3 linked regions of the Homo sapiens genome follow. The protein of the gene in region 1 purifies or fractionates together with the protein of each later gene. This does not show direct contact. Each region holds a gene or a part of one and is shown in the gene's direction. Other genes may lie near its edges.

Evidence for each region.
Region 2: the proteins of C19orf38 (region 1) and CCNY purify together in Homo sapiens (co-immunoprecipitation; 2 studies listed by BioGRID and IntAct, with this or other methods). This does not show direct contact.
Region 3: the proteins of C19orf38 (region 1) and OCLN purify together in Homo sapiens (co-immunoprecipitation; 2 studies listed by BioGRID and IntAct, with this or other methods). This does not show direct contact.

What each region holds. Positions count from the first base shown.
Region 1 is NC_000019.10:10,843,860-10,851,473, forward strand, and holds the start of C19orf38 (protein HIDE1 precursor), read left to right. Parts: upstream 1-4,555; 5' UTR 4,556-4,649; coding exon 4,650-4,680; intron 4,681-6,399; coding exon 6,400-6,708; intron 6,709-7,614.
Region 2 is NC_000010.11:35,528,432-35,535,540, forward strand, and holds part of CCNY (cyclin-Y), read left to right. Parts: intron 1-1,541; coding exon 1,542-1,599; intron 1,600-1,692; coding exon 1,693-1,812; intron 1,813-7,109. UniProt on the Homo sapiens protein: Positive regulatory subunit of the cyclin-dependent kinases CDK14/PFTK1 and CDK16.
Region 3 is NC_000005.10:69,502,692-69,509,800, forward strand, and holds part of OCLN (occludin), read left to right. Parts: intron 1-1,485; 5' UTR 1,486-1,553; coding exon 1,554-1,603; intron 1,604-6,449; coding exon 6,450-7,109. UniProt on the Homo sapiens protein: May play a role in the formation and regulation of the tight junction (TJ) paracellular permeability barrier.

The sequences.
Region 1 (7,614 bases):
TATAATTCCAACACTTCGGGAGGTGGGCGGATCATTCGAGGTCAGGAGTTCAAAACCAGATTGGCCAACATGGTGAAATCCTGTCTCTACTAAAAATCCAAAAATTAGCCAGCCGTAGTGGTGCATGCCTGTAATCCCAGCTACTCAGGAGGCTGAGGCAGGAGAATCACTTAAACCCGGAAGATGGAGGTTGCAGTGCAGCCGAGATTGCGCCACTGCACTCCAGCCGGGGCGACAAAGTGAGACCATGTCTAAAAAAAAAAAAGGCTGGACACGGTGGCTCACGCCTGTAATCCCAGCACTTTGGGAGGCTGAGGTGGGTAGATTACGAGGTCAGGAGTTCAAGACCAGCCTGACCAACATGGTGAAACCCTGTCTCTACTAAAAATACAAAAATTAGCCAGGCATGGTGGCACACGTGTAATCCCCGCTACTCAGGAAGCTGAGGCAGGAGAATCGCTTGAACCCAGGAGGTGGAGTTTGCAGTGAGATGAGATCGCACCACTTCACTCCAGCCTGGGTAACAGAGTGAGACTCCGTCTCAAAAAAAAAAAAAAAAAAATTTAAAAAGCTAGGCGTGGTGGCTCACGCCTGTAACCCCAGCACTTTGGGAGGCCAAGGTGGGAGGATTGCTTGAGCTCAGGAGTTCATGACCAGCCTGAGCAACATAGCAAGACCCTGTCTCTGTTTAAAAAAAAAAAAGAAAGGCCGGGTGCAGTGGCTCACGCCTGTAATCCCAGCACTTTGGGAGGCTGAGGCGGGCAGATCACAAGGTCAGGTGATCAAGACCATCCTGGCTAACACAGTGAAATCCCGTCTCTACTAAAAAATACAAAAAATTAGCCGGGCGTGGTGGCGGTTGCCTGTAGTCCCAGCTACTCGGGAGACTGAGGCAGGAGAATGGCGTGAACCCAGGAGGTGGAGCTTGCAGTGAGCCGAGATTGCGCCACTGCACTCCAGCCTGGGCGACAGAGCGAGATTCCATCTCAAAAAAAAAAAAAAAAAATGAAGGAGGCTGGGCGTGGTGGTGGCTTACGCCTGTAATCCCAGCACTTTGGGAGCCCAAGGTGGGAGGATTACTTGAGCCCAGGAGTTTGAGACCAGCTAGGCAATGTAGTGAGACCCTTTCTCTACAAAAAAAAAAAAAAAATTTAGCCAGGTGCCGTGCATGCCTGTGGTCCCAGCTACTTGGAAGGCTGAGGTGGGAGGATCACTTGAGCCTGAGAGATGGAGACTGCAGTGAGCCATGATTATACCACTGCACTCCAGCAGCCTGGGCAAGAAAGCAAGACCTTGTCTCCAAAAAAAAAAAAAGGCATGAGGATGAATTCAATAAATTCAAGAATATTCTGTGTACTACCTTGACCAAATTGTATTAATATTTAGAGAATATTATACCAAACAACTACACCGTGTACTTGAATTTCTAGCGTACGTACAATGTGGATCGAGATACCCTGCACCATTCTAAAAAGTCAGTACATTTCAAAGTATTGAAATTATATGACCACAAAGGAGTTAAAAATCATTAACAGTAAGCTGCCCCCCAAAAAGCCCAAGTACTTGGGCATTAAGCAACACACATATTCTCTGGATCATAGAAAAGAAAGCACAATGGAAATAAGCAAATATTTCTAACTTAATGACGCTCAATATATGAAAATGTGTGGCATGCAGTTAAAACAGTTCTTGGAGGGAAAGGTGTACCTTTAAATGCTTGTATTAGAAGATAAAGGTGGGCCGGGTGCGGTGGCTCACGCCTGTAATCCCAGCACTTTGGGAGGCCGAGGCAGGTGGATCATGAGGTCAGGAGATCGAGACCATCCTGGCTAACATGGTGAAACCCCATCTCCACTAAAAATACAAAAAATTAGCCATGCATGGTGGTGGGTGCCTGTAGTCCCAGCTACTCAGGAGTCTGAGGCAGGAGAATGGCGTGAACCTGGGAGGCAGAGCTTGCAGTGAGCCGAGATCACGCCATTGCACTCCAGCCTGGGCGACAGAGCAAGACTCCGTCAAAAAAAAAAAAAAAAAAGAGGGTTTAAAGTTAATGAGCTGCCTGTAATCCCAGCACTTTGGGAGGCTGAGTCAGGAGGATTGCTTGAGCCCAGGAGTTCAAGATCAGGCTGGGTAACATAATAGGACCCTGTCTCTACAATTTTTTTTTTTTTAATTAGCCAGGTGTGGTGGTGGACACCTGTAGTCCCAGCTACTCAGGAGGCTGAGATGGGATGATCTCTTGAGCCCAGCAGGGTGAGGCTGCAGTGAGTCATGATCATGCTGCTTCACTGTAGCCTGAGCAATAGAGCAAGACCCTGTCTCAAAAAAAAAATGTTTTTTTGTTGTTTTTTTTTTGAGACAGAGTCTCGCTCTGTTGCCCAGGCTGGAGTGCAGTGGCATGATCTCAGCTCACTGCAAGCTCTCCTTCCCGGGTTCACGCCATTCTCCAGCCTCAGCCTCCCGAGTAGCTGGGACTACAGGCACCCACTACCACATCTGGCTAATTAAAAAAAATTTTTTTTTAATAAAAAGAGTTTATATAAGCATCCATCTTAAGAAGCTATTAATACAAATTTCTGCTGGTGAAGTTTAAATTTAAAAACAAAACATGAGCTAGGAAAAGAAGAGCCAATTGAACATAAGGTAACCAGAAAAAAGAAAAGAATAAAGTCAAGTCAAAAGGCAATAAAATAGAAAATAAAACAACAAATCCAAACTGTGGCACTTTGAAAAGATCAATAACAATGATTAGCTCCTAGGAAGACCGATAAGAGACAAGGAGACTTCACTAATTTATGTGTCAGGAATGAAAGAAGGAACATCACTACAGACCCTACAGACATTAAAAGGATAGTAAGGGGATATAAATAACTTTACACCAATACATTTGACAACTCTGATGAAATGAGCAAATTCCTTGAAGATACAAGCATGCCAATTGCAATAAAGGAATATTACAGGGCACTGTGGGAGAATTTAGCTAGGGGATTGTTCTAAGTCCAGAGGGGCCTGGAAAGTTTTCCCAGAAGTGCTATTTAAACTGAGACCTGAAGGAGAAGCAGGATTTGACCAGGTTGACAGAATTGTGTTCCAGGCCAGGGAAATAGTGTGTGCAAAGGCCCTGAGGTTGGATTGAACTTTCTGTGTCCAAAGAAAAAAGTTTACTCTAATGACGCATTTTGGTGTTTGATGACCACATGCCACATCCTTCTTGGGTCCAAACCCCCAAGCAAACCTGACTGGCTTGAACAGAAATGTTTAAAAAGATAAATGCAAACCCAGTAGTAAGAGAAACTTGGAAGTTTCTGGGCTGTAAACAGGAGGCAGTTTATCCTGTGAACTATATCACAAACTATATCCAGAATTGATCTGGAACTGGTATTCCCTTTCATGTGGCTGATCAAACTTCTGAGTCTTTTTCCTCCCTGTAACTTTACCTTGTGAGCATGCACTACCCACTAGGCGTTGCATTTCCTACTACAAGTTCTTTGAATCTAATGTCCACTGCTCTTTTTTTTTTTTTTTTTTTTTGAGATGGAATTTCACTCTTGTTGCCCAGGCTGGAGTGCAATGGCGCGATCTCAACTCACCACAATCTCCATCTCCTGGGTTCAAGTGATTCTCCTGCCTCAGCCTCCCGAGTAGCTGGGATTACAGGCGTGTGCCACCACGCCCGGCTAATTTTTTGTATATAGTAGAGACGGGGTTTCACCACGTTGGCCTGGTCTCGAACTCCTGACCTCAGGTGATCTGCCCACCTCAGCCTCCCAAAGTGCTGGGATTACAGGCGTGAGCCACCACGTCTGGCCTAATGTCTACTACTCTTAGCCCCATTCTGCAGAGCAGTATACTGAAGCCTCAAAGGAGGTAAGCCATGCCTGAGGTCACAGAGGCCAAGCCCTAACCACCATGTCCTCCCACTCCTGCCCATATTTGTTTAAATGTTGGTGCTGGTTAGGCTATGGTTTGTGTCTTGGGCATGGGTTTCCAAACATCCCACTGCTGTCACCCTGTCTCATTCCCAGGAGTTCTCTTAGAAGGAGAGACAAAAGGCTGGGCACGGTGGCTCACGCCTGAAATCCCAGCACTTTGGGAGGCTGGGGCGGGCAGATAATGAGGTCAAGAGATCGAGACCATCCTGGCCAACACAGCAAAACCCCGTCTCTACTAAAAATACAAAAATTAGCTGTGCATGATGGCTCCTGCCTGTAGTCCCAGCTACTCAGGAGGCTGAGGCAGGAGAATCACTCGAACCTGGGAGGTGGAGGCTGCAGTGAGCCGAGATCGCTCCACTGCACTCCAGCCTGGGCAACAGAGCAAGACTCTGTCTCAAAAAATAAAAATAAAAAAAGAGGAAAAAATTGTGAAAACCACCTAAACATCTCATCCATTTTTTTCCCCTCTAATCTGCAGAACCGCAACCAGAGAGGTGCGCGGGTCTGATGTGTGTTTGGGGAAGGGGTGGGGAGGGGAGAGAGTCCCTTTCAGTGCCCAAGCCTGTGTGTGCAACTTCCTGCCAGTGAGGAAACTCTCAGCTCGAGAATCAGCCCTGGTTCTCCTTTCCCCGATCTGGCCTCACAGGAGGAGTTGGCGGGGAGCCTTGGGCCCCTCTGGCCTCAGCCGGATTTCCCAGCCAAACGCAGAGAGAGATGCCCTGGACCATCTTGCTCTTTGCAGCTGGTGAGTCTGAAGCCCCCCTCTCAGATCCCCCACGCCTTTCCCCCCATCCTCTGTCCACCTTGCCGCTCCAGGGGCAGAAACCAGTGCAGGGGCTGCCGTTCTCAGGGCATCGAGGAGGCTGAGCCCTTGGCAGATGGGTTTTCCCCCTGAGCCTTGGAAACTCTCCAGTAGTGTTGGTTTTTTCTTCTTAGGCTCCTCATCACCCCCAAGTTTATGAATATCAGAAATATCACCCCTCTGGAGTCAGCTGTGCCCACACCCCATGATTCAGCCCCGCTTCGTCTCTGAAGGCTCCTTGAGTGCTGGGGCAGCAGGAGGGTCTACCTAGGGGGATATCAGTGTGGCAGGGGTGGGTGGGGGTTGGAGGCTGGACGAGGGAGGGTTTGTATAGACCTCACCTGGCCAGACACTCTGCTCAGAAGCCTGTGGGCAATCAGGAGAGAGATGGATCCCCAGGAGACCATCCTGCAGGAAGCCGTGCTCCAAAATCCGTATTCTTCACCCAAGCCTGGGAAAGGAGATAAAAGTCCTCTGCCCTTCCTTCTCCTGCCCTCCCTCTCACTCACCCCCTCCCCTTCCTGCCACCCACCTCACTCACCCCCTCCCTCCTGCCATGATGGCCTCCTTGCTGCTCCTTTTTTAATATTTATTTTTATTTTTAAATAGAGACAGGGTCTCACTGTGTTCTCCAGGCTAGTCTCAAATTCCTGGGCTCAAGCAGTCCTCCCACCTTGGCCTCCCAAAGTGCTGGGATTACAGGCGTGAGCCACTGCATCAGGTGTTTGCTCCTCCTTAAACACCCCCATTCCCCTTCCATCCCCTGGACCTTTGCCTATGCTGTTCCCTCTGTTGGAATGCCCTTCCCCAGCTCTCCAAATGGGTCCTTCCTCACCACTCAGGACTCAGCTCGTGGGAGGCCAAGGTGGGAGGATCACTTGAGGTGAGGATCTGGGCAACATAGTGAGATCCCATCTCTACACAAAATAAGCAAAATTAGCTAGCCAGGTTCACCAGCCTGGCCAACATGGTGAAACCCCGTCTCTACTAAAAATATAAAAATTAGCCAGGCATGGTGGCACATAGTCCCAGGTACTCAGGAGGCTGAGGCCACTGTACTCCAGCCTGGGCGACAAAGCAAGATTTTGTCTCTAAATAAATAAATAAAGTAATAATAAATTAAATAAAAAATAAGAGTATAGTTGTGTTGCTATGTAATAACCAATGCTATTATTGAAAACTGATGGCCAGGCATGGTAGCTCACGCCTATAATCCCAGCACTTTGGGAGGCCGAGGTGGGGGGAGTCACACGAGGCCAGGAGTTCGAGACCAGTCTGGCCAATATAGTGAAACCCCATCTCTACTAAAAATATAAAAATTGGCCAGGCATAGTGCCACATGCCTGTAATCCTAGCTACTTGGGAGGCTGGAGAATCACTTGAACCCGGGAGGTGGAGGCTGTAGTGAGCCGAGATCACACCACTACATTCCATCCTGGGTGGCAGAGTGAGACTCCGACTCACAAAAAAAAGAAAAAAGAAAAGTAATTCAACTACAGGGAGCCGTCACCATGTGCCAGGCAGTGTGGGGTAGGGTCACTAGCCTCCTGACTCACAGAAAACACAAGGCTGAGGGAGGGTGGTCTACTTGCCCGAGGCCACATAGCCAGGGCAGCCTCCACTCTCACCACGCACCCACCCACCTTACCCTCTGCATTGCAGGCTCCTTGGCGATCCCAGCACCATCCATCCGGCTGGTGCCCCCGTACCCAAGCAGCCAAGAGGACCCCATCCACATCGCATGCATGGCCCCTGGGAACTTCCCGGGGGCGAATTTCACACTGTATCGAGGGGGGCAGGTGGTCCAGCTCCTGCAGGCCCCCACGGACCAGCGCGGGGTGACATTTAACCTGAGCGGCGGCAGCAGCAAGGCTCCAGGGGGACCCTTCCACTGCCAGTATGGAGTGTTAGGTGAGCTCAACCAGTCCCAGCTGTCAGACCTCAGCGAGCCCGTGAACGTCTCCTTCCCAGGTAAGGCCCTTCTATGGGATCTCACTGCCGGGGGCTTAATTTTCTCACATGGACCTCTTGTGTGTACTGTTGACTCAGAGGCCTTCCCAGAAAAAGCCAGGCTTACACCCTGCCAGGACTTACTCGCCTTTCCTTTTTCAATCTTCTCAGCCAGCCCAAAAGGGGATTTGTTGGTTCACTGAGCTTAAGTCAGCTCACAGGGCCGACTTCAGGTATGGCTAGATCCAGGTGCTGAAAGCTGTCAGGGACCATTTGCCCCATCTCTGCTCCACATTCTTCTCCGTCTTATTGTCAGGCAGCCCGTCTCCCTCTTGGTGCCAAAATTGGTGCTGTGATTCTTCCCATTTTGCAGATAAGGAAACTGAGGCACAGGAGGTACACACCTTGTACACAGGTAACAGGTAGCCAGTCTGGGATGCCATTGCCTTCCAAAAACCATGAATTACACCTCCGTGACATACATTACTTCCCCTCTTGGCCACATACTTTTTTTGTTTGTTTGCTTTGAGATAGTTATGCTCTTGTTGCCCAGGCTGGAGTGCAGTGGCACGATCTTGGCTCACTGCAGCCTCTGCCTCCTGGTTCAAGCGATTCTTCTGCCTCAGCCTCCTGAGTATCTGGGATTACAGGTGTGTGCCACCATGCCCGGCTAATTTTTGTATTTTTAGTAAAGACAGGATTTCACCATGTTGGCCAGGCCAGTCTCGAACCCCTGACCTCATGATCCGCCTACCTCAGCCTCCCAAAGTGCTGGAATTACAGGCATGAGCCACTGCACCTGGCTTTTTTTTTTTTTTAAATGAGACAAGGTCGTGCAGACTAGAGGGCAATGGCACAATCATAGCTCACTTCATCCTCCAATTCCTATCCTCAAGTGATCCTCCCACCTCAGCCTCCTAAGTAGCT
Region 2 (7,109 bases), on another chromosome or scaffold:
AGTGGCTTACGCCTGTAATCCTAGCACTTTGGGAGGCCGAGGCAGGCGGATCACGAGGTCTGGAGATTGAGACCATCCTGGCCAACATGCTGAAACTCCGTCTCTACTAAAAATACAAAAATCAGCTGGGCCTGGTGGCGCGTGCTTATAATCCCAGCTACAAGGGATATTGAGGCAGCCTCTACAAGGAGGCTGAGGCAGGAGAATCGCTTGAACCCGGGAGGTGGAGGTTGCAGTGAGCCGAGATTGCACCAGTGCACTCCAGCCTGGTGACAGAGCAAGACTCCGTCTCAAAAAATAATAATAATAATTGCTGTTGTGCAAATGTAGGAATGAAAATTGAGCTGTTTTGTTAAGCTCTTTCTCTTTTATTTTTACACAGATGGTAAATTTCTAAAGCAGAAATTGTAATGTTTGTCATGATAAGTGTGTGTTAGGGACAGGTCTGTAGCCTTCTGAAGTTCTGAAGCCTGACACTGAAGCACAGACTATGGAAATTACATGCAGCTAGCCAAAAGCTGTCATTTCCAAGTTTGGTTGTTTAAAGAAAATTTTTTAGGCAAAACTTAAATTTCATATAACAGATGAAAGTAGAGCTGTCACTCGTGAGGTACGGAGGGTCCCCGCAGAGCCCAGCGGCCCACGGTACTGTGTTCACAGTGAAAGCTACCTCTTTAAGTGGTTCTGTGCACGTACCAGCCTGGTAAGAGCTAACTGTTCACATATAGGTTATTGACTAAAGACTTTTTATCTGTCACCTGTTGTTTTTCAGTATAAAATTGTGAAACTTAAATGAAGTAGTGACGTTGCGTGTTGTGAATAATCAGACTGATCTCTAGGATACATTGATATTCATTCTTACCCTGGCGCTTCTTTCCTATCACCCACAGTATGTTGATGGCTTAAGCAGATCCAACAACCTTTGCTTGGAAATAAGATGTCAAATTTAAGTCATTTGCCTAGATTCGATTCATTTGAAAACTCAAAAAATTAAAATTAAATTTTTACTTAATTTAGCTAAGTGTGGTTTATAACCTTTATTTCCTTGGGCTATTTTAATCATAAGTGATTAAGTATTGCACCCAAGAAAAATCATTATTCATGAATAACCATTTAGCACTGACTTGTGTTTCTTGAAATAGTTGAATTGGCTGGGTGCAGTGGCTCACACCTGTAATCCCAGAACTTTGGGAGGACAAAGCAGGTGGATCTCCTGAGGTCAGGAGTTCGAGACCAGCCTGGCTAACATGGTGAAACCTTGTCTCTACTAAAAATACAAAAAAAAAAAATTAGCCGGGTGTGGTGTTGTGTGCCTGTAATCCCAGCTAATTGGAAGGCTGAAGCAGGAGAATCACTTGAACCCAGGAGGTGGAGGTTGCAGTGAGCTGAGATGGCGCCACTGCACTCCAGCCTGGGCAACAGAGTGAGACTCCGTATCCCAAAAAAAAAAAAAAAGTCATTGAATTAAAATGTATTTTTGTTTTATTTGAATGACATTCTTGCAGAAAGTAAGTTTCATTTTCTATTATTTTCCCTACCAGGGACCCAGATGGAAGGATGCTCTTAGATATTTTTGATGAAAATCTTCACCCTCTTTCGGTAATCTCCTCCGTGTGTTTCATGAGATGATTTAATTATTTCTCTTTTGCTCCAATCGGGAGATCAGTCATCTGAAAATATTTTCTTCCCCAGAAATCCGAAGTGCCACCAGATTATGACAAACACAACCCAGAGCAGAAGCAGATTTACCGGTTCGTTCGGACACTGTTCAGTGCTGCTCAGCTGACGGCTGAATGTGCCATCGTCACCCTGGTGAGTGCCCTCAGGATGGCCACACCCATCCCCAGCCGAGGTGGTCCAGGGCCCGTTCCTGTTACTCAGCGGAGTGAGGTTGGAGCAGGGAATCCTCACCAGGTTACCCTGTGGACACCGTGGCATAAGCTTCAGTGTTGTCGTTCTCCTGGGAGAATAGAGGATAGATATCCCGGAAGAGATTGTGAAGATTGTTCTGTAGCCCCCACCTAAAGTCATTTGTGAAATCACGTTCAAATCCAGGAAATGCTGAAATTAAAAATGCAGGTAAGTAAAACAGTAGGGCTAAGAGAGTGGTTATATGGCCAAGGTACTCCCTGTATACGTCTAGGTTTCCTGGTGTTGATTCCCTACAAAGATTGTAATAGTATTAGTAAGATATGATGAATACATTCATCTTATATGAACACTTGTCTAGGAAGGAGTGTGTATATTCCTAGCTTCTGTTTTGTGACTTTTGAGTAAATGTGTCTGCAGGATATTCAGAGACAGTATGGAGGTAACGTATATTTTAAGACTCAAGAAAAAATAAAAATTTGTTTTTACAGCTGGGCTCCATGGCTCACGTCAGTAATTTCAGCACTTTGGGAGGTCAAGGTGGGAGGATCACTTGAGCCCAGGAGTTTGAGACCAGTCTGGACAACATAGTGAAACCCCGACTCTACAAAATTTAAAAGTCAGCTGGCCATGGTGGCACGTACCTGTGGTCCCAGCTACTTGGAAGGCTGAGGTGAAAGGATCACTTAAGCCCAGGAGGTCAGGCTGCAGTGAGCTATGATCATGCCACTGCACTCCAGCCCGAGGGGCAGAGCGAGACCCTGTCTCAAAAGAAAAAGTATTCTTACTTGGATTCTTAAAATGTTATGCACTATTTAGGTCAAATCTCACTTGGGAAATAGATTTAACAATGGAACCCTTTTTGTCACTGACCTTTTACATTGTGTATAACTTAGATGAGAAATTAGCTTTGCCTGTGCATGAGCTATCCTGGAGATCAGAATACCATTTCCTGTAGTTTCTGAGAAGAGACAATTGTCTAGTAGAAGCTTTACAGGCGACCGAAGGACTCTTTGTGTCTCCGCCACATGAAGAGCTGTGTGCTCCGAGGCTAACTGAACAGAAACCCTGTTGGCTTGTTGCTCATTCATTCATCTGTTCATCTGTTTGTTCATTCCTTCTCATTGAACTCACAGCCTGAAGGATAATAGAACAGACAATCAAGTAATCATTAGATGATTAGGAATGATTGCAGGTTCCTATGTCATAATTGAGTAATGTATGTACTGCCCAGCTTTGTTCCTCAAAGGGATTTTAAGTTCTAACCAAAACACGCAACAGGGCAACAGGGTTGAGATTTTTATGTAGGGAAATTCAGTGAAGGGAAAAGAAGATTAAGAAAAGCAGATGAAACCATAGATGAAATTAGTACTGGAATACATGCCATGAGGAAGGATTTATTTTGAAGTTGCTGTAGATGGAAAGTGGCGGGGATTTTTTCTACCTTTAATTCCTAAGAAAAATATGGCCTGGCTGTGAAAGATAGTGCCTTCCTGGTCGGGATTATTATTTAGCTTGAAGGATGTTCAGGGCCAGCATTTAAACCCCACAGCTCACCCAGTGTCTGCCTTGAGAGAACATCTAACAGGCATCCCTTGCTGCCCTCTGCATCACTCACCAAAGGTGACAGGGCTGATGAGTTCATTTCTTTGGAGTAGTGTAGGACTGGCACTTTTCTTGTGAATAATTGTAACTATTGAAATCTTCATTTGTCCTATGAAATAGACTGGTGTTGACCAGGATACCAGTTTGTATGGGGGTCTTGTTGGTTGCAGCTGGAGAGGAGCAGCCTTGGAGGCCTTCGTGGTAGGTGCAGCCCTGCAGCCCATCCTCTGGTCTCTGCTGTCTGCTGAGGCTCATCAGCGCAGCTGCATGCTTGTGGGTAGAGGGCACAGAGACGTGTGCCTTGAGCAAGACTCTTGTAGGATTGTTCTTCCCTCCTCGTGTTCCCTAGAGTTAGAAACAGTCATTCAGGACAAGTCTGGCCTGGAGTTGACAGAGATGCATTCATTAAGCCCTTATTTTCACTGGGCATGTGTTTGGCATCTTGGCATGCTGCTCAGCAGGCAATGGAGGAGGAAGAGCAGTTAGCCCTGGCCGTGCTTCCCACACGGAGTAGGACTGCAGCCTGCTGTGGACAGAGAGCCTACAGGCCCTTCAAACACCCAAACCTACTTCACCCAAAGCAAATATTTCACAGCTTAATCAACTTCCTTTTAAAAGAGTAACAATAACTTAGATCACTAAGTGTATTTTTTAGCCTCCTAGAATATGCTGAAAGCTCTCCTATGGATACTGCCACATGAGGAAATTTGAAAGGGAGTGAGGTAATTGATTTGCACCTTGATGAGTTATGTAGAGGCCTTTGTGGTGTACCTGCAGCAGCTGGAGGAAGCCAGGCCTGCAGTGAAGTGGGCAGAAAGGCCTTGGCATCCAGCTGCCCCTCCACGAGGCCCTTCCCTTCCCTCAGGAGTCACCCAAGCTGACTGATCCTGAGAACCATGCATGGCACCCACTTTAGTCCTATGCGGTACTTCGACAACATGAAAAGCTCATTGCCTGTCTGAACTGGGATCTTCTGTTGGAAGGATGAGAAAGCCAGAGGCCAAGGCAGAAGGAGATATATTGGAAGGTCCAGGCAGGTCTCGCATATCCCTTGTCCTGTAGGTCTGGAAGGACATCAGGCTGTAGAATGAGGCCCACTGCAGGTTTCTCTTCCTTTGGGCTGCTTCTCTCACCTTTGCGCACTGCTGTGGCTCTGGGGCCTTAATGTGCAGGTCGGCTTTCTTGCTTCGGATGGGATGTGGCAGGACAGTATTAATAGCTTTCCCCACCCTTCATCACCTCTCCGTTTAAGGCCGCACACCCTCTAACCCAGTCTCCTCTTTCAGTTTTGGAGAGGGGAGATTTTGACTGGCCCCAGTTCCTTTGGGGTCAGATGTTCATCTGTAGAAAAATCAGTCATGACCCAGAGTTGAAGGAGCTTGGTCCTGCTCTTTTTTTTCTCACTTTGCACGCTCCTCTGTTCAGAACCTGTGGTGGTTCCCATCTTCCTCAAAGGAAAACACAAAGCCCTTATGTTACTGACGGGGCCTAGCAAGATTAAGCCTCCCATCTCTGCCCAGCTGCCTCCACTCTCCTCAGTGTCATGCTGCAGCTGCTCTGTTCCCTGGATGTACCGGACACACACCTGCCTCGGGACTTCTGCACCTCAGGACTTCCTCCACCCCTTGGCACCCAGCTCCCTCTGTCCCAGGTGTGTTTGAGATGCGTCCTGCCCTCCTCCTCCCCATCTTTGCTCAAAGGGCACATCAGGGGGCTGTTGCCTGGCCACCATATCTGAAGTTGCAACCTCCCTCCTGCACCGCACTCCCTGCTCATCACTTCCTGCTTTTTCTCCACTTGCTTATCACCTGTCAGCATGCTTTAGGTTGAAGTCATTAATTTTATTGTTTTGTCAGTAAGCCCCATGCGTAAGAAATGTCTGGTCTTTTTGTCCATGTGGTTTACTACAATACGACCAACATCTGGAACACAGCCCAGCTCATAATGAATGCTCAGTAAGTATTTGTTGAACATGTAGTGAGCACAGTAATAACTGCCTACTGGCTGAAGTACATGGTGGTGATGTGCCTGAAACATAAGGATCATTTAATACCTATTTATTATCTTCCCCTGCCCCAGTAGTTTTAGAACATTGACACATTTCATTTCATTGCTTAACTTTTTTTTTTTTTTTGAGATGGAGTCTCACTTTGTTGCTCAGGCTGGAGTACAGTGGCACAATCTCAGCTCACTGCACCCTGCACCTCCCAGTTTCAAACGATTCTCCTGCCTCAGCCTTCTGAGTAGCTGGGATTACAGGCTTGCGCCACCATGCCCTGCTAATTTTTCTTGAATTTTTAGTAGAGAAGGGGGTTTCACCATGTTGGCCAGGCTGGTCACTCCTGACCTCAAGTGATCTGCCCACCTCAGCCTCCCAAAGTTCTGGGATTACAGGCGTGCGCCACCACACCCAGCCCTGCTTAAGCTTTCTGAAGGGACAGAAAAAAACTCGTCAACTTCGGGGACATCACTCAACTGAACCTTGATTGAGCATTCCGTGTGAGGTTAGTTCTGTCTGTAGAGCCACAGCAATGGGAGAGGGAGAAAGAGAGGAAGTTGGTGATTGATGGAGGGATTCCGGCATAAGGGAAGGGGAACCAAGAAGAGATCGAGGTGGCAAAGTGACAGCTGACCAGACAGGAGGGGGTGTGGTCCCTTTCTTTATTTCCTATTTTTTAATAGCTTTATTGGGACATATTTTATATACCATACAATTCAGCCATTTAAAGTGAGCATTTTAGTGGGTTTTAGTACATTGTACAACCATCACTACAACCTAATTTCAGAATATTCCCTTCACCCCATAGAGAAACCCCTTACCCTTTGGCATTCACTCCTCGTTCTTAGCCTCCACCCAGGCCCAGGAAACCACTAATCAAATTTCTATGTCATTTGCCTATTCTGAACATTTCATATCAATAGTATCTCATATGATAGTTCATGATTGGCTTCTTTTACTTAGCATATGTTTTTGGGATTCATCCATGTTGTAGCATGTATAGTATGTCCTTTTTTATTGCAAATAATATTCCATTGAGTGGGGATACATACACACACACACACACACACATATATATATATAGATCTATATATATGTGTGTGTGTGTGTGTGTGTGTGTGTGTGTGTATGTATATATAGATCTATATATATGCTGCAGCCCTAATCCCTGTTGGAGTGAACAAAGGAGGATGAACGTGAGAATAAAGACAAAGACAAAAGAATGTATTTGGAAGAAGGGGTCAGGGGGCTCCTTGCTTTTAGTGAACAAGGGCCCAGAGCTTCTATAGCCCTTCGTATTTATTGAGTAAAGGAGATACAGAGAAGGGGGTGGTTGTCAGTCAGCTGCTTGACTTAGAGCAGGCCTGCACAGCTGCATTCTCTGAACAGTAGTCTCTAGATGTTCCAGTAGATAACCTCAAGGAGCACGGCACCAGGGAGTGATTACACTCAACAAACCTTCTGGTGGCAGGTGCAGTTGTGAGTTTGCCCACATCCTGCATTCATGATAAACAGTTTGCTGTTTGATCATATAGCCTCCAGTGGAATGCTGAGTTGGTCACAACCCACAGGCTTTTGGCTCTCTCTGTCTCTCTCCCTATATGTGTATGTATATGTGTATGTATACGTATATGTA
Region 3 (7,109 bases), on another chromosome or scaffold:
CCAGTGTCTCCAGCACTGGGTTTTCTAGAATAATCCTCAAGCTTTATAGGTTAGGGGGTTGTGTGTTTACCACATCTTGCTGAGACTTGTCTTTTTCCTGGAGAGCTCTCAGTGCCCATGGATCCACCTACGGACGTAGGCAGATGACCTCCATCTTCACTTCCTCATGGATGCTAACACCAGATGTGCACTCCCCACAAAAACTGGTGTTTCCCAAATGGAACTCATTGTTTCAAACTAGCATAGTGAAAAGCACATGAAATCATCTGGGTTCAAGTTACATCTGAGTGACTCACTGACATCCATATAACCTTGAGCATATTACTTCACATCTCTTTCTGACCCTCTTTGCATCTGTAAAGTGACTAATCAACCATGGAGGGTCGTTTTGAGGATGAAAGGAGGTTTTATGTAAAGCACCCAGCACGTCGGTAGGTGTCTGATGAATGTTAGTTTCCTTCCTATCTTCTGTCTCCTAAGCTAGTCCTTCATTGTTGCCTCACACCTAGGTTTGCTGCTGCTGACTGTAGGTGCTCCTTTTTACTGTTGACTTTGTCTTTCAAATCTGGTTCAAATCAAACTTACACCTCCCTTGCCGAGAATCACGAACTGGCTCCCTGTTTCCTACCTGAAGGAAGTGAGACACTCCCACTAGACTTTCAAAGCCCTCCCTTTTCTTACTCATCCTCCATCCACTATATTCTTACTGTAACCTTATTTTAAAAGATGACACCATTCCACCATGCTCCCACTTCACTGTTCCATAAGCTAGCCACCTGTGTTATCAGCACCACACCAGCCTGGAAGAGCCAGGACCCCAGCGCTGGCTGTCATACGTCACTCCCACAGGCTCTCCTGGTCTAGTGTAGGCACTTAATAAATGCTTGTTGAGTGAAATTTCTCCTCAGATGTTTAGGAACTTGTGCTGAAGAATTTTAGGACAAAATTTCAGAAAATGACCAATTAATACCATGCATATTGTTTTTTCTCCCCTTGTATAAAAATTGTGCTCAGTTTCGAAGACTTGGAAAAGGAGATAAGGGAAAAATATCTACAATTCCACCATTTATAGATGCATTTTATTATCATTTTTAATGATAAAGGCATTTAACCCATTAGATGGTTACTTTGCATTGAGGAGCTAGTATGTGCTAGTGCGGCTATATGTGCACTTTCTTATACATTCTCATTTAATATGAACTTTCAAAAGTAATATGAAATTATATATATTTCAAATTTTTGTACAAAAAATACAGGAATTAGCCAGGCATGGTGGTGCAGGTCTGTAGTCCTAGCTACTTGGGAGGCTGAGGTAGGAGGAGTACTTGAGCCTGGTAGATCAAGGCTGCAGTGAGCTGTGATTGGACCACTGCACTCCAGCCTGGGTGACAGGGTGAGACCCTGTCTCGGGGTGGGGGTGGGATGAAGAAAAGAAAGAAACTGTGAGCTTAGTAGTAATGCCATAACTCTACTTTTGTTGCTTAGATTGGTTTATCTTGGAAGCTAAAGGGCATTGCTCATCCTGAAGATCAGCTGACCATTGACAATCAGCCATGTCATCCAGGCCTCTTGAAAGTCCACCTCCTTACAGGCCTGATGAATTGTAAGTAAATAATTCTTTAGTTATTCTCTTTTAAAAAGTCTATCACATGTAAACAATAAGTATGGTTGAAACTTTAAGTGTTTGCTTTTAAAAATAAAACGATATGTGTACTTGTAAATTTAAATTGTATCAAAGGGTCTGCACTGAAAACTGAATTTCTCTCAACTTTCAGAATGACAGTTTGTCTCTGCTAGGACAACTGCTGTCACCTATTCCTAATGTTTGTTTCAAGAGATTGCCAAGGTTTATATTTGTATGTTCCTTTTTGTTTTGTACAAATGATAATGAAGCTTCCATTTAAATGCCTCATTTAGGTGGCCATTGGGAACATATTGTCAGTTTTTAAAAATAACAGCTTTAGGCCGGGTGCGGTGGCTCACGCCTGTAATCCCAGCACCTTGGGAGGCCGAGGCTGGCGGATCACAAGGTCAAGAGATCGAGACCATCCTGGCCAACATGGTGAACTCCCGTCTCTACTAAAAATACAAAAATTAGCTGGCTGTGGTGGCGCGCACCTCTAATCCCAGCTACTTGCCTGTAATCCCAGCTACTTGGGAGGCTGAGGCAGGAGATTCACTTGAACCCAGGAGGTGGAGGTTGCAGTGAGCCGAGATCACGCCACTGCACTCCAGCCTAGAGACAGAGCGAGACTCCGTCTGAAAAAAAGAAAAAAGGCCAGGCCTGGTGGCTCATGCCTGTAATCCCAGCACTTTGGGAGGCCGAGGCGGGTGGATCACCTGAGGTCGGGAGTTTAAGACCATCCTGACCAACGTGGAGAAACCCCCATCTCTACTGAAAATACAAAATTAGCCGGGCATGGTGATGCATGCCTATAATTGCAGCTATTTGGGAGGCTGAGACAGGAGAATCGCTTGAACCCAGGAGGCGGAGGTTGAGGTGAGCTGAGATGGCGCCATTGCACTCTAGACTGGGTGACAAGAGCAAAACTCCGTCTCAAAAAATAAATAAATAAATAAAAATAACAGCTTTATTGAGATATAATTAACATACTTTACAATTTACCCATTTAGAATGGATAGTTTAATGGTTTTTAGTATATTCACAGAGTTGTAGAACCATCACCACAATTAATTTTAGAACATTTCATTACTCTCCAAAGAAACCTATCCATTGGCAGTCACCTCCCAGTTCCATCAGCCCTAAGCAACTATTGGTCTACTTTCTGTCTCTATAGATTTGTCTATTCTGCATATTTTGTATAAATGGAGAAATCACGTAATATGTGGCCTTTTGTAACTGGCTTCTTTCACTTAGCATAATACTTTCCATACTGTCAGTTTTAAGAGTGATTCCTGCCATGATCTAAAACAAGCAGTGTTGAGGGGTTTTGGGCTCCTTGGTCATGTGAAGACTTATCAGTGAATTTTTGAATTCCAAATTTGCTATCAAACATTGATAGGGATTTCCTCCTCTAAGTAGTTTGCAGCTTTAACCATGATAAGTGTAGTGGAGTGTGATATAGGCAAAAACAAACAGTTTCTCCTGCTGTTCTGTCACAACACATCTGTGACCTCTGATCACCAGAATTTGTGGGGATATTTCCCCACCAGCAACCAAGTAATCAGTTCTACAGTGGACAATAGCTGTGTGTCCTCTAATTATCAGTTCAATTCTGACACTGTCAGAGATAGCATCAGATCACAGGTTCAGGGCTCATTCCCACAAGACTGCCCCCACTTCACGTAGCAGCCACAAGCTCAGGTTGTGGCCTGTGTTTCTGACCCACCTACAGTAAATCAGGATTCCCACAGTTGTCTCCTTGGGTGCAATTAATTTGCTAAAGTGGCTTGCAGAACTCAGGGAAACAGTACTTACCATTACTGGTTTATTATAAAGGGTATTACAAAAGCCAGGTGTGGTGGTGCATGCCTGTTATCCCAGCTACTCAGAAGGCTGAGGCAGGAGGATTGCTTGAGCCCAGGAGTTTGAGGCCAGCCTGGGCAACATAGGGAAACCCTGTCTTTTAAGAATGAATGAATGAATGAACAAACAAATGATATTACAATGGATGCCAACAAACACCAGATGAAGAGGTGGACAGGGCGAGGTATGTGGGAAGCAGCCCTCCCTGGTTGTGCCACCCTCCAGGAACTTGCACATGTTCAGCTGTCCAGAAGTTCTGTGAATTCGGTCCTTTTGGGTTTTTATGGAAGCTTTATGACATAGGCATGATTGACTAAATCATTGGCCATTGGTGAGCAGTTTAAGCTTCAGCCCCTCTTTCCTGTCCAGAGAGGGTTGGGGCTGAAAAGTTCCAACCCTCTAATCCTAGCTCCCATCCTGAAGCTTCCTAGGGCTGCCAGGAACCTATCATCTCATTAGCATATAAGGGATACTTATCACTTTGGAGAGTCCAAAGATTTTAGGAGTTGTATGCCAGAAAATGGAGATGAAGACTAAATACATATTTTACAATATCACGTGAAGGTTGTGTTCCAGTTCTTTAACCTCCTTACTAGTGCCTAAAACATGGTGGGGACACAAGTTGTTTATGACAATACAGTTTTTAAAACATACTAGAGAATATAGTAATTGAGTAATGCACCACTAATCTGACACTTATTTTGTGTTGCTTTTGTAAATAATGGTGAACTGCAACATACATAAAGAAAAGGACACAGAACATATGTAGGAGATCATGAGGAAAGACCAAGCAAACATACATACTCATCACCCAGGTCAAGAAACAGAACACTTCAAAGTCCTTCCCTGTGTCCTCTCCTTTTCTCTGGAGACCACTGTCCTGACGTATGATCATTACCTGCTTTTATCATTTTATCATCTTGTATATCCTAAACATTTCAGTTTAGTTTTACCTGTTTTATTTATTTATTTTTGAGACAGACTCTCACTTTGTTGCCCAGGCTGGAGTGCAGTGGCACAATCTTGGCTCACTGCAACCTCCACTTCCTGGATTCAAGCAATTCTCCTGCCTCAGCCTCCCAAGTAGATGGGATTACAGGTAACCACCACAATGCACAACCAATTTTTATGCTTTTAGTAGAGACGGGGTTTCGCCATGTTGGCCAGGCTGGTCTCAAATTCCTGACCTCAGGTGACCCGCCCACCTCCTAAAGTGCTGGGATTATAGGTGTGAGCCACCACATCTGGCCAGTTTTACCTGTTTTAAAACTTTATGTAAATATAATAATGCGATATGTATTTTTTCATTTTTTTCAGCATTACCTGTAACTGCATGTATTCATAGTTCATCAGTTTTGGCTTCATAGCACTGTAGAAATATAACATGAGCCATATATGTAATTTTATACTTTCATTAAAAATAAAAAGATAATTTTTTTTTTTTAAGACAGAGTTTTGCTCTTTTTGCCCAGGCTGGAGTGCAATGGCACGGTCTCGGCTTACTGCAACCTCCACCTCCTGGGTTCAAGTGATTCTCCTGCCTCAGCCTCCCAAGTAGCTGGGATTACAAGCACACACCACCACGCCCAACTAGTTTTTGTATTTTCAGTAGAGATGGGGTTTCACCAGGATAGCCAGGCCGGTCTCGAACTCCTGACCTCAGGTGATCCACCCGCCTCGGCCTCCCAGAGTGCTGGGATTACAGGCGTGAGCCACCGTGCCTGGCCAAAAGAAGAAATTAATTTTAATATATTTCACTTAATCTTGTATATCTAAAACATTACTTCATCACGTGATTGATGTAAAAAATGAATGATTCAGGAAATATTTTACATTCTTTCTTCATATTATATCTTTGAAATCCATTGTGCATTTTTAAATTTTTTTGCCCTGTCACCCAGGCTGGAGTGCAGTGGGTGTGATCGCAGCTCACTGCAACCTCTGCCTCCTGGGTTCAAGGGATTCTTGATTTTCGTGCCTCAGCCTCCCAAGTAAGTGGGATTACAGGCATGTGTCACCATGCCTGGCTAATTTTTGTATTTTTAGTAGAGATAGGGTTTTACCATGTTCTCCAGGCTGGTCTCAAACTCCTGGCCTCAAGTGATCTGCCCACCTCAGACTCTCCACTGTGCATTTTAACAGCGTATCTCAGTTTGGACTAGCCACATTTCTTTTTTTTTGAGACGGAGTCTTGCTCTGTCACTCAGGGTAGAGTGCAATGGCACGATCTCGGCTCACTGCAACCTCCACCTCCCGGGTTCAAGCAATTCTCGTGCCTCAGCCTCCTGAGTAGCTGGGATTACAGGCGCATGCCACCACGTCTGGCTAATTTTTGTATTTTTAGTAGAGATGGGGTTTCACCATGTTGGCCAGGCTGGTCTTGAACCCCTGACCTCAAGTGATCCACCCGCCTTGGCCTCCCAAAGTGCTGGGATTACAGACATGAGCCACCGTGCCCAGCCGGACTAGATACATTTCAAGTGTATGATAGACCCAAGTGGCTAGTGGCTGCCACATTGGACAGTATAGCTATGGAGTATTCCATTGTATGGATATATTACAGTTACCCATTCCACTGTAGGTAATTGGTACAATCACTTTGGAAAACAGTTTGATACTGTCTAGTGAAGTTGAAGATATAAAAATATGTGATCCAGAAATTCTCCTGGTTATATACCCTAGAAAAATAAGTACTGTTCCGTACCAGAATACACATTCAAGGATGTTTATAGTTAAACTGTTTACAATACCCCCAAACAGAGATAACCCAAATGTCTGAGCAGAATGGGTTGTGGCTAGAGGCCAATAATCTTATGTTTTAACAAGCCCTCCAGGTGATTCCTGTGCACAGATAAGCTTTAGTTTCATTTACCCAATGGTTTAAATTATTCCAAATAAGTTGTGTTCTTTCTGCTTACTACCAAAAAATGCTAACTTGAAATTATTTTCATGTTCATTTCAGCAAACCGAATCATTATGCACCAAGCAATGACATATATGGTGGAGAGATGCATGTTCGACCAATGCTCTCTCAGCCAGCCTACTCTTTTTACCCAGAAGATGAAATTCTTCACTTCTACAAATGGACCTCTCCTCCAGGAGTGATTCGGATCCTGTCTATGCTCATTATTGTGATGTGCATTGCCATCTTTGCCTGTGTGGCCTCCACGCTTGCCTGGGACAGAGGCTATGGAACTTCCCTTTTAGGAGGTAGTGTAGGCTACCCTTATGGAGGAAGTGGCTTTGGTAGCTACGGAAGTGGCTATGGCTATGGCTATGGTTATGGCTATGGCTACGGAGGCTATACAGACCCAAGAGCAGCAAAGGGCTTCATGTTGGCCATGGCTGCCTTTTGTTTCATTGCCGCGTTGGTGATCTTTGTTACCAGTGTTATAAGATCTGAAATGTCCAGAACAAGAAGATACTACTTAAGTGTGATAATAGTGAGTGCTATCCTGGGCATCATGGTGTTTATTGCCACAATTGTCTATATAATGGGAGTGAACCCAACTGCTCAGTCTTCTGGATCTCTATATGGTTCACAAATATATGCCCTCTGCAACCAATTTTATACACCTGCAGCTACTGGACTCTACGTGGATCAGTATTTGTATCACTACTG